2 linked regions of the Homo sapiens genome follow. The protein of the gene in region 2 interacts with the protein of the main gene of each other region in a biochemical or structural test. Each region holds a gene or a part of one and is shown on either strand. Other genes may lie near its edges.

Evidence for each region. Proteins that work in one complex are often made in the same cells at the same time.
Region 1: the proteins of EPAS1 (region 2) and USP8 form a complex in vitro, tested with the Homo sapiens proteins (one study listed by IntAct).

Annotation. Positions count from the first base shown.
Region 1 is NC_000015.10:50,420,240-50,427,404, forward strand, and holds the start of USP8 (ubiquitin carboxyl-terminal hydrolase 8), read left to right. Parts: upstream 1-4,165; 5' UTR 4,166-4,275; exon of another isoform or gene 4,276-4,415; intron 4,416-7,165. UniProt on the Homo sapiens protein: Hydrolase that can remove conjugated ubiquitin from proteins and therefore plays an important regulatory role at the level of protein turnover by preventing degradation. Converts both 'Lys-48' an 'Lys-63'-linked ubiquitin chains.
Region 2 is NC_000002.12:46,377,361-46,384,453, reverse strand, and holds part of EPAS1 (endothelial PAS domain-containing protein 1), read right to left. Parts: intron 6,561-7,093; coding exon 6,367-6,560; intron 5,798-6,366; coding exon 5,687-5,797; intron 4,228-5,686; coding exon 3,737-4,227; intron 2,859-3,736; coding exon 2,732-2,858; intron 2,480-2,731; coding exon 2,365-2,479; intron 2,030-2,364; coding exon 1,856-2,029; intron 1-1,855.

The DNA of each region.
Region 1 (7,165 bases), on a different chromosome or scaffold from region 2:
ACATGCCCTAGTCCAGTGCTGTCCATTAGAGCTTTCTTTAATAATGGAAGTAGCCTGTATCTGCTGGTCAATAAGGTAACCAATAGTTACCAGGGGCTGTTGAGCACTTGAAATATGGATATTTTGACTGAACTGAATTTTTAATTTTACAACTAGCTGTGGTTACTAGTTACTGTATTTAGCAGCCATACTCAACAATCCTATAGGTCTATCTTAATTACTTTTATAGGAATGAAGAGTATTATAATTATTTCTCAATTATATATATTTGGTTTTAATTTCTACAGAGGAAGAGGACAACAAAGTTTTGTGAACTATTATTCATATAAGTTTGTAGTTGTTTAAGGAAAAGACTTCACAGAGAACAGGGCAGAGAGTAACACAATATCTGATTTCCAAAAAATTCAATCAAACTTTGATATGGATTTGGTCAAATCATTGTTTAATGGCCTCCTTAACATTATTATTAAACTGATTTATATAATTTGCTTTTTACTAATCAAATACATTGTTTTAAATCTTAATTATTTTTTATTATAAAAGTAATACACATTCAGTGTAACAAGTTCAAATAATCTCTCAGGTGGATAAAATACGGACATCCACCACACTGTACCTACCAAGATGCCCATACCCCAAAGATGATTGCTGTTAAACATTTAGAGTGCCTTTCCTGACTTTTTTGTCTAAGCACCTTTAAAAACCAATACTTTTGGTTTTCAGTGATAGCTCTGAATCCCCTTTAGGCATAGAGTGTGGGAAATTATATTTCTGCAGCAAACTCAGGCTCTGCAACATCAAGTGTGGATTCACTGGAAATTATTTGAAGTAACACTTAGAGATCATAGTAGCCAAAAAATGTTGGGAAATTAAAAAGGGGTTTTTAAAAATTAATTATCGTTATTATTATTTTTTTCAAAGAGACAGGGTCTTCACTCCATCACCCAGGATGGAGTTCAGTGGCGGAATTACAGCTCACTGAAGCCTCAAACTCCTGGGTGCAACCAATCCTCCTGCCTCAGCCTCCCAAGTAGCTTGGACTACAGGCATGCACCAACTGTGCCAGGCTAATTTTTTAATATTTTGTAGGGATAGGGTCTTGCTATGTTGCCCAGGCTGATCTCAAACTCCTGACCTCAAGCAATCCACGCACCTCAGCCTCCCATAGTGCTGGGATTACAGGAGTGAGCTCCCACACCCAGCTGAAAAAGGTTTTTGTGGAGGGAGTATGATCAGGAGAAAAATCATGGAATGTGCTCGAAAGAGATCTAAAGGGCCATGGAAGTCAAAAGGTTGAACTCCATAGAACAAAACATGAAGTATGGAAAGATTCTTTAAAAAACACTTGACTTTGGAACAAAATCCAAATTGTTCCCATGATTTCATTCTTTGACATTATGTTCATTTTGGTTATCTTAGTCTTTTCTCAGAATTCCTCTTTAACAGAGAATTATCTAAAAGCCCCTGGCTAAGTTAATGCTTATGACTATGGTCACAAATGGATGGCTTGGATTTTATTTGTTTTGCAGTGTTTGTAAATTTTTTTATGTATACTGTTGTTGTCAACTAACATAATCCGTATGTATATGGGTTATATATATATATATATATATTCCCCAAATTTAAAAACCAGTTTGGAGATTTTTCCCACACACAGAAAATCAGAAAATTGGCAATACTCTGCCCCATTACCACATGGCAACAATGTAGACAGGCCATGAGTTCTCCACATGGCCCTAATCCCCACCACTCTTAAACAAATCTAATCAGTTTTATGTATATTATATATGTATATTGCTGTGCTTCTCCTTCCTGCCTGACCCTGCAAGACCCCTGTCTCAGTCTCTCTCAACATGTCTGAAGGACTCGAGGGCAGGTGTCAAAGGTGAAGGCCCTCATCTGGATTTAATGTCCTGGACCTTGAAACAGCAGCTAGTGTTTTGAGCTCTAAGCTAACACTTTGGACTTTCTTTTTTTTTTCGAGATGGAGTCTTGCTCTGTCGCCCAGGCTGGAGTGCAGTGGCACCATCTCGGCTCACTGCAAGCTCCACCTCTCGGGTTCACGCCATTCTCCTGCCTCAGCCTCCTGAGTAGCTGGGACTACAGGCGCCCTCCACCACGCCTGGCTAATTTTTTGTATTTTTAGCAGAGATGGGGTTTCACCGTGTTAGCCAGGATGGTCTCGATCTCCTGACCTCGTGATCCGTCCGCCTTGGCCTCCCAAAGTGCTGGGATTACAGGCATGAACCACCGCGCCTGGCCACATTTTGGACTTTCAGTCATGTTTTCTTTCCCCAATGAAATAGAAAAGTTTTATTTCAAAGAGGAAAAGGGTGCAACAGCTGCAACATACATAAAACCTATTTAGTTTTACTTGGGAGTGGGAATCAGGAAACCTGGGTTCTGTTTTTGACTTAGTTTGGATAAAGAAGGGTAGTTAAGCTGTCCTTATGTCTCTTACCAAATGGAGAAAATACTGCTGTAGTTCACAGCAATTTGGGGAGTTTTAGATTCTATGGAAAATGGAAATCCTATTTGTAACTTAGATTTTTTCTTTGGAGAAGGAGTCTCGCTCTGTTGCCCAGGCTGGAGTGCAGTGGCACGATCTCGGCTCACTGCAACCTCCACCTTCCAGGTTCAAGCGATTCACTGACTCAGCCTCCTCAGTAGCTGGGATTACAGGCACGCGCCACCATGCCCAGCTAATGTTTGTATTTTTAGTAGAGACCAGGTTTTGCCATTTTGGCCAGGCTGGTCTCAAACTCCTGACCTCAAGTGATCTGCCCACCTTGGCCTCCCAAAGTGCTGGGATTACAGGCGTGAGCTACCGCTCCCGGTCTAATTTTTAAATTTTTGTTTTGTAGAGATGAGGGTCTCCCTTTGTTGCTCAAGCTGGTCTCTGTCTCTTGGGATCAAGGGATCCTCCTGCCTCAGCCTCCCAAAGTGCTGGGATTACAGGCCTGGGCCACTGCAACCTGGCCTTCATCACAAATTCATTGAACACACTTTCTTTATTTTATCCTTTTTTATTTTTAAAAATTTTTATTTCAGTAGTTTTGGAGGAACAGGTTGCATGGAAAAGTTCTTTAGTGGTCATTTCTGAGATTTTGGTGCACCCATCACCCGAGCAGTGTACACTGTACCATGTGGCACACACTTTCACTTAAAGCATTTACTAGACCTCGCTAGCCAGATTTCCCATCCCTGAGACACCTGGAATGTTCCTGAGGACTTAGTGACTACTGCCTAAAGCTCCACCCAAGTCAATTTTATGTTTACAGGCAACCGGAGCATCCAATCACCTTTCTCTAAGAGAGTACAAAGATCAGCTCGCGAGAAAGTTCAGACGTCTCATTTCGTTTCTATTACACGGGGCCTTCGCCCAACCAGACGGAGTCTTGCTCTGCTGCCCAGGCTGGAGTGCAGTAGCGCGATCTCGGCTCATTGCAACCTTCGCTCCCCGGGTTTAAGCAATTCTCCTGCCTCAGCCACTGGAGTAGCTAGGATTACAGGCGCACGCCACCACGCCAAGCTAATTTTTTGTATTCTTAATAGAGACGGGGGTTTCACCATGTTGGCCAGGCTGGTCTCGAACTCCTGACCTCATCATTTGCCCGCCTCGGCCTCCCAAAGCGCTGGGATTACAGGCGTGAGCCACCGTGCCCAGCCTCGCCGGGGCCTTTTAAGTGACGTTAAAAATTGTACATAAAATATGTTTTAGGATAATACTTGTTTTTCTTTGACCAAAGGCTTGGCTTCAGAGAATGTTTAGCCAGAAATAGAGGGGCGTTAAATCCCCTTTTTTCTAATTTCCAATCTGAGGAGGAAAATAACGTAGTAAAGGGACGCAAGAGCAACCTTGCTTCTTCCACAACAAGGCCCAGGCGCCGCCTTGCAACCCGGAAATGCAGGGTGCAGTGCGGGGGGTAAGGGACCGGCCAACTATGTTGACCCGACTCAGAGAAACCCCGCCCTTGCCGCCACCGCCCACCCATAACGTCCTCCTCGACCCTCCCTCGACCATCCCTCGCCCCGCGGCCCTCACCGAAAAGGGGAGGGCGGTGGAAGAGAGAGGAGTCAAGGGAGCGCACGCGAAGCCCCGCCCCTGCCGTGACGTCTGGAGACGCGACGCGTCGCCTCGCAATGCAAATCGGGAAAAGGGGGTGAGCTGGGCTGGCTTCCGTCCTGGTAGCCAAGGCTAATTCTCCCTCGAGTTCTTGGGAGATGGGCATTTGGCGAGAAGGCTGGCGTTAGTGAAGCGCGCCCGGCGTCACGGTGAGTGCGGGTCTTGGGCCCTAGCACCTGTTCTCTGGGAAGTCGTCCGCTGTGAACGATGAACGCCTTTCCTTCCACCAGCTGCTGGTTACCCCGGAGACAAGCTCTGTCCGCGGAGAGGAGTGGGACAACTCCTAAAGGTAGAATCAGCTTGTGGAGAGGAAAGGCCCAACCTTGAGTCTTTTACGCCATCTACCTAGGATTGCCAAGCGAGTTTCGTGTGTTTTTTTGGTTTTAAAAGGTGGCTTTGACCAATCTTCCGTTCTCTTGGACACTTATACCCGACTTTGACCTCTTTCCTCTTGCTTCCGGTTTTTTTTTTTTTCTGCAATCTGCCTACAATCCCAGGCCTTACTGTAGCTCCTAAAACTGTTTCCCAGTTTCTCTTCTTCCCCAGTCACACTTGATTTTAGTGAAGTTTGAGTTTAAAGACCCTATAAGCTTGTCAGAGTTAAAACTATGACTTCCTCAAATAGAAGATTTTTTTTTTTTCCCCTAAAAAGTGCCTTCCATCCTAGAGTTGTGGGACAAGTTAATTTCACCGCCACTCCACCTTGGAAATTATCAGAATCCTTACTAGCAGTGATGTGCATTATAAAGCTGCAGACCACCCTCCTGGGTTTATTTCTTGCCTCCAGTTCATTCTGTGACCTTGAACAAGTCACTTAATCACTAACAAAAAATTTACCTGACACGGAGGTGTTGCAGAGCCTAAGGAATTTAGTATTTGTTAAGAGACCTGAGGGTTTCAGATGAAAGGGATTTATATCTAAAGGATGTTACCTTTTCTGAATCTGCAAAGCATCGTTAGTTTTGTAAATATCTTGCTGCAGCCATTAAAAATGCCAAGTGGTATTTGTTAAGGAAGTATTCCTGTTTTAGGCTTGCTCTGCTGCGGCTTTGCTATGTAAGCAGATTTTTGCATTTCAGCCGATTCTGTTTAAGATTCGTTGGTGAATGTCATTCATGATGGATTTGGGTAGTTTCTCCTTACAGCATATCCCTGGACTATTAAGCATATCTGGAAGGTGATATCGGTTGTGTTATGTCTTTATCATGTTGATATGGCTGCTTTGAAATATGTATTCCTTTTCTTGTGACACATTGGATGCATCTTTAATATTAGTGAAGACCCTGTAGTAGTTTAAAAAAAAAATACACCTCTCATTAATGAAATTTTGCACATAGACATCTGTTTTTTTAAGAAAACAATGTATAAGAAAAACTAACAAAAATGTTTTAAAGGTGCCTTTTTTAGCATTTCGTTTTTTAATATATTTACTTGGACTTTAATCTTTATGGGCATTTGTTTATTAATGTGGACGTGGCTGGGCGCAGTGGCTCACATCTGTAATCCTAGCACTTTGGGAGGCGGAGGTGGGCGGATCACTGAGGTCAGGAGTTCGAGATCAGCCTGGCCAACATGGCGAAACCCGGTCTCTACTAAAAATACAAAATTAGCTGGGCGTGGTGGTGCACGCCTGTAGTCCCAGCTACTCTGGAGGCTGAGGCAGGAGAATCGCTTGAACCTGGAAAGCGAAGGTTGCAGTGAGCCGAGATTGCGTCATTGCACTCCAGCCTGGGTGACAAGAGCAAAACTCCGTCTCAAAAAATAAAAAATAAAAAGCGTGGACATAATGGAAAATAATCAAAATGACTTTTGGGTAAGACAGTTGGAAAATAAAGCCAGTACATTAAATTTTTTTCATAAGTCTAGCACTATATTACGAACTTTTCTCCATGAAAATGCACTCATATTTATGGAAGTGAAAGGAAAAAAATGTCTTCAGGTATGTGTTGCTAATAAAATTAGATATAATTAAGGAAACATTTAAAAAATACCTTGTTGTTGTCCCAGTTACCTATTGCTGCATAACAAATCACTCCAAAACATAGTGACTTAAAACTGTAATTTAGTATCTCTCCTGTTTCTCTGGCCTGCCTGGACTTAGCTAAGTGGTTTTCACCTAGAGTTTAATGCGTTTGTATTCAGATAAGCAGCTGAGTTTGGAGTCAACCGAGAGCTCAGCTGGTCTGGACATCCAAAATGGCTAATTCACGTGAAGGCGTTTGATGTTGGCTAGGAGTTCAGCTGGAAATGTCAACTGGAATGCCCACACATAGCCTCTTCACGTGACTTGAACAGTATGGCGGCTAGGTTCCGAGAATACATGTTTGAGGAGTCAGGAAGTAGAAGCTGCCAGTCTCCCAAAAAGCCTGAGCCCAGAAATTCGCACAACATTACTTCCAACATACTCTGTTGGTTAGAGCAAAGACCAGCGTACAACCCTCACCTTTGAAAGGAAAAATGTCAAAGAATTTGTGGCCGTGCTTTGCCTACTATAATTTTGATGACAAAGTTGTATTGGACTCTTGTTTGCATTTATATAGCAGATGAAGAATCAGGTACACTTCCAATTTCCAGTTTCTTTCTTTCTTCTTCTTCTTTTTTTTTTTTTGAGATGGAGTCTTGCTCTGTTGTCAGCCTGGAGTGCAGTGTACGATCTCAGCTCACTGCAACCTCTGCCTCCTGGGTTCACGCCATTCTCCTGCCTCAGCCTCCCGAGTAGCATGTCACCAAGCCCAGCTAATTTTTGTATTTTTAGTAGAGATGGGGTTTCACCATGTTGGCCAGGATGATCTTGATCTCTTGACCTGTGATCCACCTGCCTCAACCTCCGAAAGTGCTGGAATTACAGGCGTGAGCCACCGCGCCTGACCCATTTCCAATTTCTTTAACCGTAATACTTTATGTTGTAATGGCATATTACAGTTTTCAAAGCATGTTTTTGTATATTTTTTCACTTGATACCTATGGTCACCCTATAGAAGCAGACAAATAGTTCCTATTTCATTTTGCAGATGAAAGTAAACTGAAGAGTGGTGGTGG
Region 2 (7,093 bases):
TGTCTACTTCTTTGTGACTGGGGGATACCAATAGAGCAGCCCTAATTTCACTCTGCTCCTTCAGTGGTGTCTGTCCCACGGCCTGCTGCATGCCCGGGGAACGTGTCTGCCTCCAGAACCACTGCCTCAGGTGGGGTGCTGAGACCCAAGAAAGAGGAAAGCGTGAGGTGCGGGCTGCAGCACAGGTATGTGGAAGCTTCAGGAAGAGCCTGGGGTTGCTGACCCCCATGCCTCCTGGCAGCAGGGAGGAAAGGCTGAACCACCTGGCACCTATGCTCACATACACAGAACATGCAGAACACACACATACATACAGATGCAAACACAGACTGCCTCAAGATTCAACAGTCTGAAAATCCAGTTTCTGGTCACCACCCTCAGCAGTCCTTTCTTCTTGCCTCTGTGCTATTCTCTTGCCGAGGAGGCAGACCAGGGAGTGGCAGGGGGGACACTCGCAGCACACACACAGGCCCCCATCCCAAGGAGGAAAGGCTTAGGTGGCAGCAGAGAGCCTGGAAGCCCTGCATTCTGCCCCTCCGATGGGAGATGCCCACCCACCTTCCCTTATCTGCAGAGCCTCGTTCCAGTGGCCATTGCCTCCTGCACCTCCTAGCTCAGATCCTTGCTGGGGTCCATGCCTGCCTCCCCAGCTTGACTGCTCCTGTGGACAGTATCAATGGATACCTGCTCACCATCCCTTGCTAACTTCTCTTATTCATGGTCAGAAAAGAGTTTGATATGATTCAACTCTTTTGAAAAGAATATGATTTTCCCTTGATTTCAATATTCAAGGTAATTCGTGGGCTTCACATAACAGGAAGAATAGTGCTGGCTACCTCTTACTGCACATAAATATATACCAGCCCCTGAACTCAACAGCAGAGCCAGAATTTAAGCCAGGGCTGTCTGGTGTTTCTACAGCCTGGACTCTGAAGCACAGAACTATAACCTTCCCCAAACTCTATTGCTGAGGAAATTGCCTTTTAGAACAGGGGCCTGGTATGTTTTTCCATAAACCACGAATTATTTTCAGGCCAAACAAACCTCATGAAGACATATATGTTTCACAAGATACTGTCAAGATGAAGGTGGCCCAGGGTTGAAGGCAGGCATTGGTGCCTGCAGTTGAACCAAGTCCAGTGGGGTGGGCCTACCAGAGCTTTCCAGGCTGTTCTACCTGAAGGAAGTTTTGGCATGTTCTCAGCACCTGCCTGAACTCAGAGTGACACCCCAAAACACATCCACATGAAGAACTGAGGAAGGGGCAAGGCTCCGGGATTCTCAGGGTGGAAAGAGCCCTGGATGGCACCTGATCATGGGAGGGTTCTCCCTAAAGCCCCAGGGAAGGAGCACTCCCTTCTCCACGCAGCAAGCTCATCCTTGCATAGACGGGAGATCCCCTGCCTCTGCCCAGACCGCTTCCCAACTCTCTCTCTCTGAACTTTCTCTTCTCTTCTTCAACAGGCCCTCACCACTGTGGCCGCCTGCTCTTTCTTCTGAAAGTGCTCCTGTCAACAGTGGTACAGTGTTCTGGGGGTCGCCAACCCAGTGTTCAGTGTTCAGTCCTCTTTGGGCAGTCGGTAGTGGTCTGCATTCTTTCCTTCAGTATTCTAGCCTGAGTTTGAGTTTTTTAGCTGTGTCTCAGACCCACCCACTGGGGGGCCTGATCACTGATGTCACAAGGAACTTGTGAGGAGGTTCCCTAAATCCAAGGAGACCTGAGCCCTGTATAGGTGACTTCAAGTCAAGCACCTCCCTGTGCCTGGCACTGTGCAGACGCTGGAAAAAAAGTAGACGTGGGCTTCCCCTGGCATCGAATCCTGGGATGGGGGTGACAGATCCTGGGCACACCCACCTGACACCTTGTGGGCTGACGACAGGCTGTAGTCCTGGTACTGGGTGGCGTAGCACTGTGGGGGGAACCTGCTCTTGCTGTTCTCCCCGGGACTGATGGCAGATGGAGGCTGTGGCAGCGGCAGATGTCTCAGGGGATGGCCCAGGCCCCTCATGGGGTTTTGGGTGAACTTATCTGAAAGACCAAAGTCAGAGAGTGACGGTAGCATTGGCCTGAGGGAGGGGAGAGGCCAGGAAGCCCTAGCATCCCTTTCCTTTATAAAAGGTGCTCAGAGTCACCAGAACTACAGCCAACCTTCAGGACCCTCTGATGGCATCATCTAAGTCAGAGTGGAGATGGAAAAGTTGGGTGTGTGGGACTGCGGGAGAGACAGAGGACATCGCCCCATTCTAACAAGGCTCAGAGAGGCAGGTACGGCCTGTGGTGAATGGAAGAACCAGGATGGGCTCCCGAGCCCCAGTCCTTCCACCAGAACCCCCAGGAGGCCCAGGCCTGTGGCCGCTGCTCACCATTGGGTACATTTGCGCTCAGTGGCTTGTCCGGCATCAAAGGGCAGCTCCCACCCCTGAGGTTCTTCATCCGTTTCCACATCAAATGTGAGGTGCTGCCACCAGGTGGGTCCCCCTGGGAGTAAGAAGGGCAGATGGAAAGGGGAAATGGCCAGAGAACCAGGTCCCCAGACTGGGTGGGTTGGGTGGGCCTGGAACAGGGCTGGCACTTGCTGGCTTGGAAGGGCCACATCCCCACCCCTCTCAGCAGCCCTGGGTTCCCTAAGGGCTATGCTGGCTTGGAAGGGCCACATCCCCACCCCTCTCAGCAGCCCTGGGTTCCCTAAGGGCTATGGAGAGGCCCCTGTGGCCAGTGGGGATGACTCACCCCGCTCAGGTCCTGGAAGGCTTGCTCTTCATACTCCAGCTGTCGCTTCAGCTTCAGCTTGTTGGAGAGGGCTACCATGGCCGGACTCAGCACGTCTGGGCCTCGAGCCCCAAAACCCTTTGCAGACCTGCCAAGCCCGAGAGAGCAGGCTATGAGGGAGTCTGGAGCCACATGCCACTCAGTGCCTTCTCATCTTAGGGGCCCTTCCAGTCCCAATGCTGATGCCTGTGATGACTCAAAGACCCAAAAGGCAGAGTCTCAGAGGCAGGCTGTGCACCTGCAGGCCGAGCTCGAGCTCTGTCTCCTTCCTCAGCTATAAGATGCTGAAGGGCTCAAGCCTCCTGGTCTGGGGGATGGCTGCCTGGCTGGGCAATGTTAGTCCTTAGGAGGGTTTCTTCTGCCCATGTCTCTCCTCTGCCTTTTGCTCCCACTGAAAACTAGTTTGGCTGCTCTATAAAGGGCAAGTACCAGCGGCCCCTGGGAGTGGCAGGTCATGTACCAACCCCTGTGCCTTAGCCCAGTGAGCTCGCAGCTGGTGAAATGAGCATGCTGGGGAGATGGGAAGGCATTTCTGGAGCCTAGGCACAGCTGGGAGAGGCTGCAGTGGCGAGGACCCGGGGGCAGCCAAAAGGCAAGGGGAGGCAGGGGTATCTTTTTGCTGTTTTCAACCAGGGAAAATCATCACTCAATTTTCTGTGTGGCTCAGATGATGAACCGAGATACGAAAGGCACTCTGGTGGTGGTCCGAAGGGAGACACTGAGGTACAGGGCTCTCAACAAGCCACTTCTTTGCCTGCCCTCAGTGGCAGCCCAGATAAAAACCCATCCTACACTAGGCCTCACATGGCTTGAGGTGATTCCCCAAAGTCTGAGCTCAGAGAAGGGCTAAATGGGGTATCAGATGGCTGGGGAGAGGGGCAGGGGCCTCCCTGGGGGTCCAGCTATCTTACTAGTGGGTGCCTCTCGGTTCGGCCCTGCTGGTACAGCTGAGTATCTGCCACTTACCTTGTCTTGAAGGTGGAGACATGGGGTGGAGAGACAGGGGGCCCCAACGGCGCTGCTCCCAAGAACTCTGTGCGCTGATCCCCGACGGCCCACTTTGTGGGCCCAAAATGTAATGGTGGATCTGGGGGCCACTGGGTATTGGATCTGCCCCCCATGGAAGAGAGAGGGGTGCTGGCCTGGCCACAGCACGGTGGCAGGGATGCTTTGCTTCCGGCATCAAAGAAGATGGAGGACATGGGCCGGTGCTCGGGCTCTGTCTTCTTGCTCTCCAGCTGCTGCTGAAACTTGTCCAGGAGGAAGGGACTGTGCGGGGCTACAGGGGCCAGTGGCTGGAAGATGTTTGTCATGGCACTGAAGCAGTGCTGGGGGGTGGACTGTGGGTTCTCCGCCAAGAGCCGCTCCTCGGGGCAGATGGGGCTTAGCTGGAAGTCTTCCCCGTCCATGGGGATATAGGGTGCCAGTGTCTCCAAGTCCAGCTCATTGAAATCCGTCTGAGGGGAGACAGCACCGGCAAAGAGGCAAGGGGGTTGGTACGACCTCACAAACACTATTCCAACTCAGCTCCTGCAGAGCCATTCATCTCAAGCACTGTTTCACAGTGCTGCTCAAACGCCTCCACTGGCTCCCGAGGGCCTATCAGGAAAACCTCAGACTTGGCTGTGTCATGTACACGACCTTGTATCATGTACCAGCCTTCCCCCATGTTTATCCCCTCTTCACCCTGCACATTGAGAAATGTTCTCCTCTCCCCATCCCACCTGTCCGGAGCCCGCCTTCTCTCTTGAAGCCGAGGCAGCCCCTCTTCCACAGAGTCAGCCCTGCCTACTCCAGCCTGTGGTGGTTATCCTTGTCCTACAATGCTTAGGCCTGTGGTGCACACTGTGGCTTTTTTTTGTCCTCTTCTCCCTCCTGTAAGCTGGCACGGGCCTAAGCAAGCAGTAAGTGCCCAGGTCCATCTGTGGACTCTCGCAGAGTAACAGCCTAACAGCCAGACCCCAGGGACAGAGACTTTGGTTCCAATCAGCAGATACTCAGATCATCCCTTAGGGTGGCAGTATCATGACGGACGCATGATACAAGCAGGGGAATACAAGCAGATGCGGAAAACAGTTTCTAACTTCAGAGACTGACACCCTCAGTGGGTGTCAGCTGACTAATGACTGCAATACTAAGCAATCTTTAAGGAGCAGAAGCAGATAGCTGTGATTAAGTGCCACATGATATATACTACAGGAGTGCTGAGGAGGGAGGGTGATAGAAAAGCTAAAATTGGGCATGTTTTGCAGAGTAGCTGGGATTTGTGCCAAGTAGGATCAAGAAACAAACTAAGTGGCAAGGCAGAAATCTGGTTGAACTCAAGACTAAGACAAATGGGGGATTAATGGTTTTCCCTGGGGTTTTGTAAAACACGTACCCCTCCCTCTACCTTATCCTTGTTTACATAGTTTTTGCAAGAACATTGGCCTTATGTAATAAATGTGTTCCTGAAAAGTTTTATGTAAATGAAAAATTGTCAAACAGATGTTATTTATTTTAAAGTGCATTTCATATAAAAATGATTATTTTTTTAAAATCACAAGATGAATGTGTTTATAAAGGGATTAATTGTCCCCTATGTTTATACATGTTTTATACATCTGGCTATGCTTGTTAAATGTAGGGCCTGTTTAAAGAAAGGTGCAGTGGTATCATTTCGGTTTTCATGTGTGCTAAGAAAGCTATCTAAGTAGGAGACACATATGCTGGAAGAGCTGGATTTGACAGTGGGAGGAGGGGGTGACCACAGGCTCCATTACCCTGTACCCCTACCTCTTTAGGGGACCTGGGCCTTGGCCAAACGTCTCCACTGCTCTTTACAACAAAGGGATGAGGCTACAAGAATGGATGTGAGCCTTTGCTGTCCACCAGACAGCAGGCACACACCCTAGCCTGATCTCCACAGCCATCTACCTGGGTACTGCATTGGTCCTTGGCCTCTGTGTCCATGGCGAAGAGCTTCTCAATCACTTCAATCTTCAGGTCGTTATCCAAAGATGTGTAATAGTCTTCAGGGCTATTGGGCTAGGGGCCAGGAAGGAGGGGGACAGAGTCAAAGATATGGCACTGGTCTCCCCAGAAGTCCAGCATGGAAGAAGAAATACCTTCCTGGACCCAAAGGTTCAATTCCATTCCACCACACAACTATTTGTAGAGGGGCTGCTAATTAACAAGCTGTATGAATTAGGTCAATTCATCAACCTCTCTAAATTCCAGTCTCCTCATCATAAAATGAGGCTACTGTCGCTTCACAGGTTGTCCTGTCTTGAGGACCAAACAGGATACAGGCTGTGGCCAGCAGGGCTGTGCAAACTGTGCAGCTCTGTGCCACATACGGGATGTTACTGCCCTGTATGGGGACTGAGCTGGGGGCTCAAAGCCCTTCAAGGAGCTTATTTCAATGGAGTTGGGGGATGAACACTAAAAGGAAGAAAACAGCTCTGATACCTGGTAGGTAAGTGTCACGGCCACTCTAGGGGGCTCTGTGATAACCTGAGAAGGACAGTACCTGTCCCAAATGTCCCTTCAGCCATCTGGCAGCAGTCATACATACGGAGCCCTCTCTGTGTCCTCGCCATAAGAGGGCTGCTCACCGTGGAGCAGCTGCTGCTGCTGCTGGTGGCACTGGGGGTGGTGCTGCCCGGGGCAGCTGCCTGGGGCACGGTGAAGGCAGGCAGGCTCCCAGCCTCGCTCTGGGTGCTGTGGCTCCTCAACTCCGTGGCCCATGGCTGGCTCGGGGGCAGGATGGCCTTGCCATAGGCTGAGGACTCCTCGAAGTTCTGATTCCCTGTGGAGACAAGGGCCTGGGAGGTGAACACCCACAACCATCGGGCTCACCCCAAGGCAGAGGAGGCCCAAAAACCGCAGAGAAGGCCCTAAGAGGGTCTGGAAGGCATGCCTGGGGCTAGGCCCCCCCAACACCCTGGGGCTCAGCTGGAACACATGGGTCTTTGACTCTGGCTATGAGTCAACGTAGAGACTCCCTTTAAACGGAACAGTCTCCTGGGACATTTAATTTTCAGAGACTAAATATATTAGGAGCCACTCTTCCCTGAGGAACAGATCCGGAAGGGTAGACAAGGAAGGTATGAGAGGGAGAGGAGAATTGGGCTATTGAGCTATTTGCCTCAGTACTGCCACAAAACAAGCCGCGAGACCTACTGGCCAAGGGCCCGCTGCGTTTCAGATTCTCTTTAGCTGCAATCCTCACGTGGCCGCTGTAGAACCCATCTAAAAGGGGCTGACACAGTCCAGGGTGAGCACCACTCTTCCGGCAGCCACAGCAAGGCCAGGAGAGGGTGGCAGCGGGTTGCGAACTGG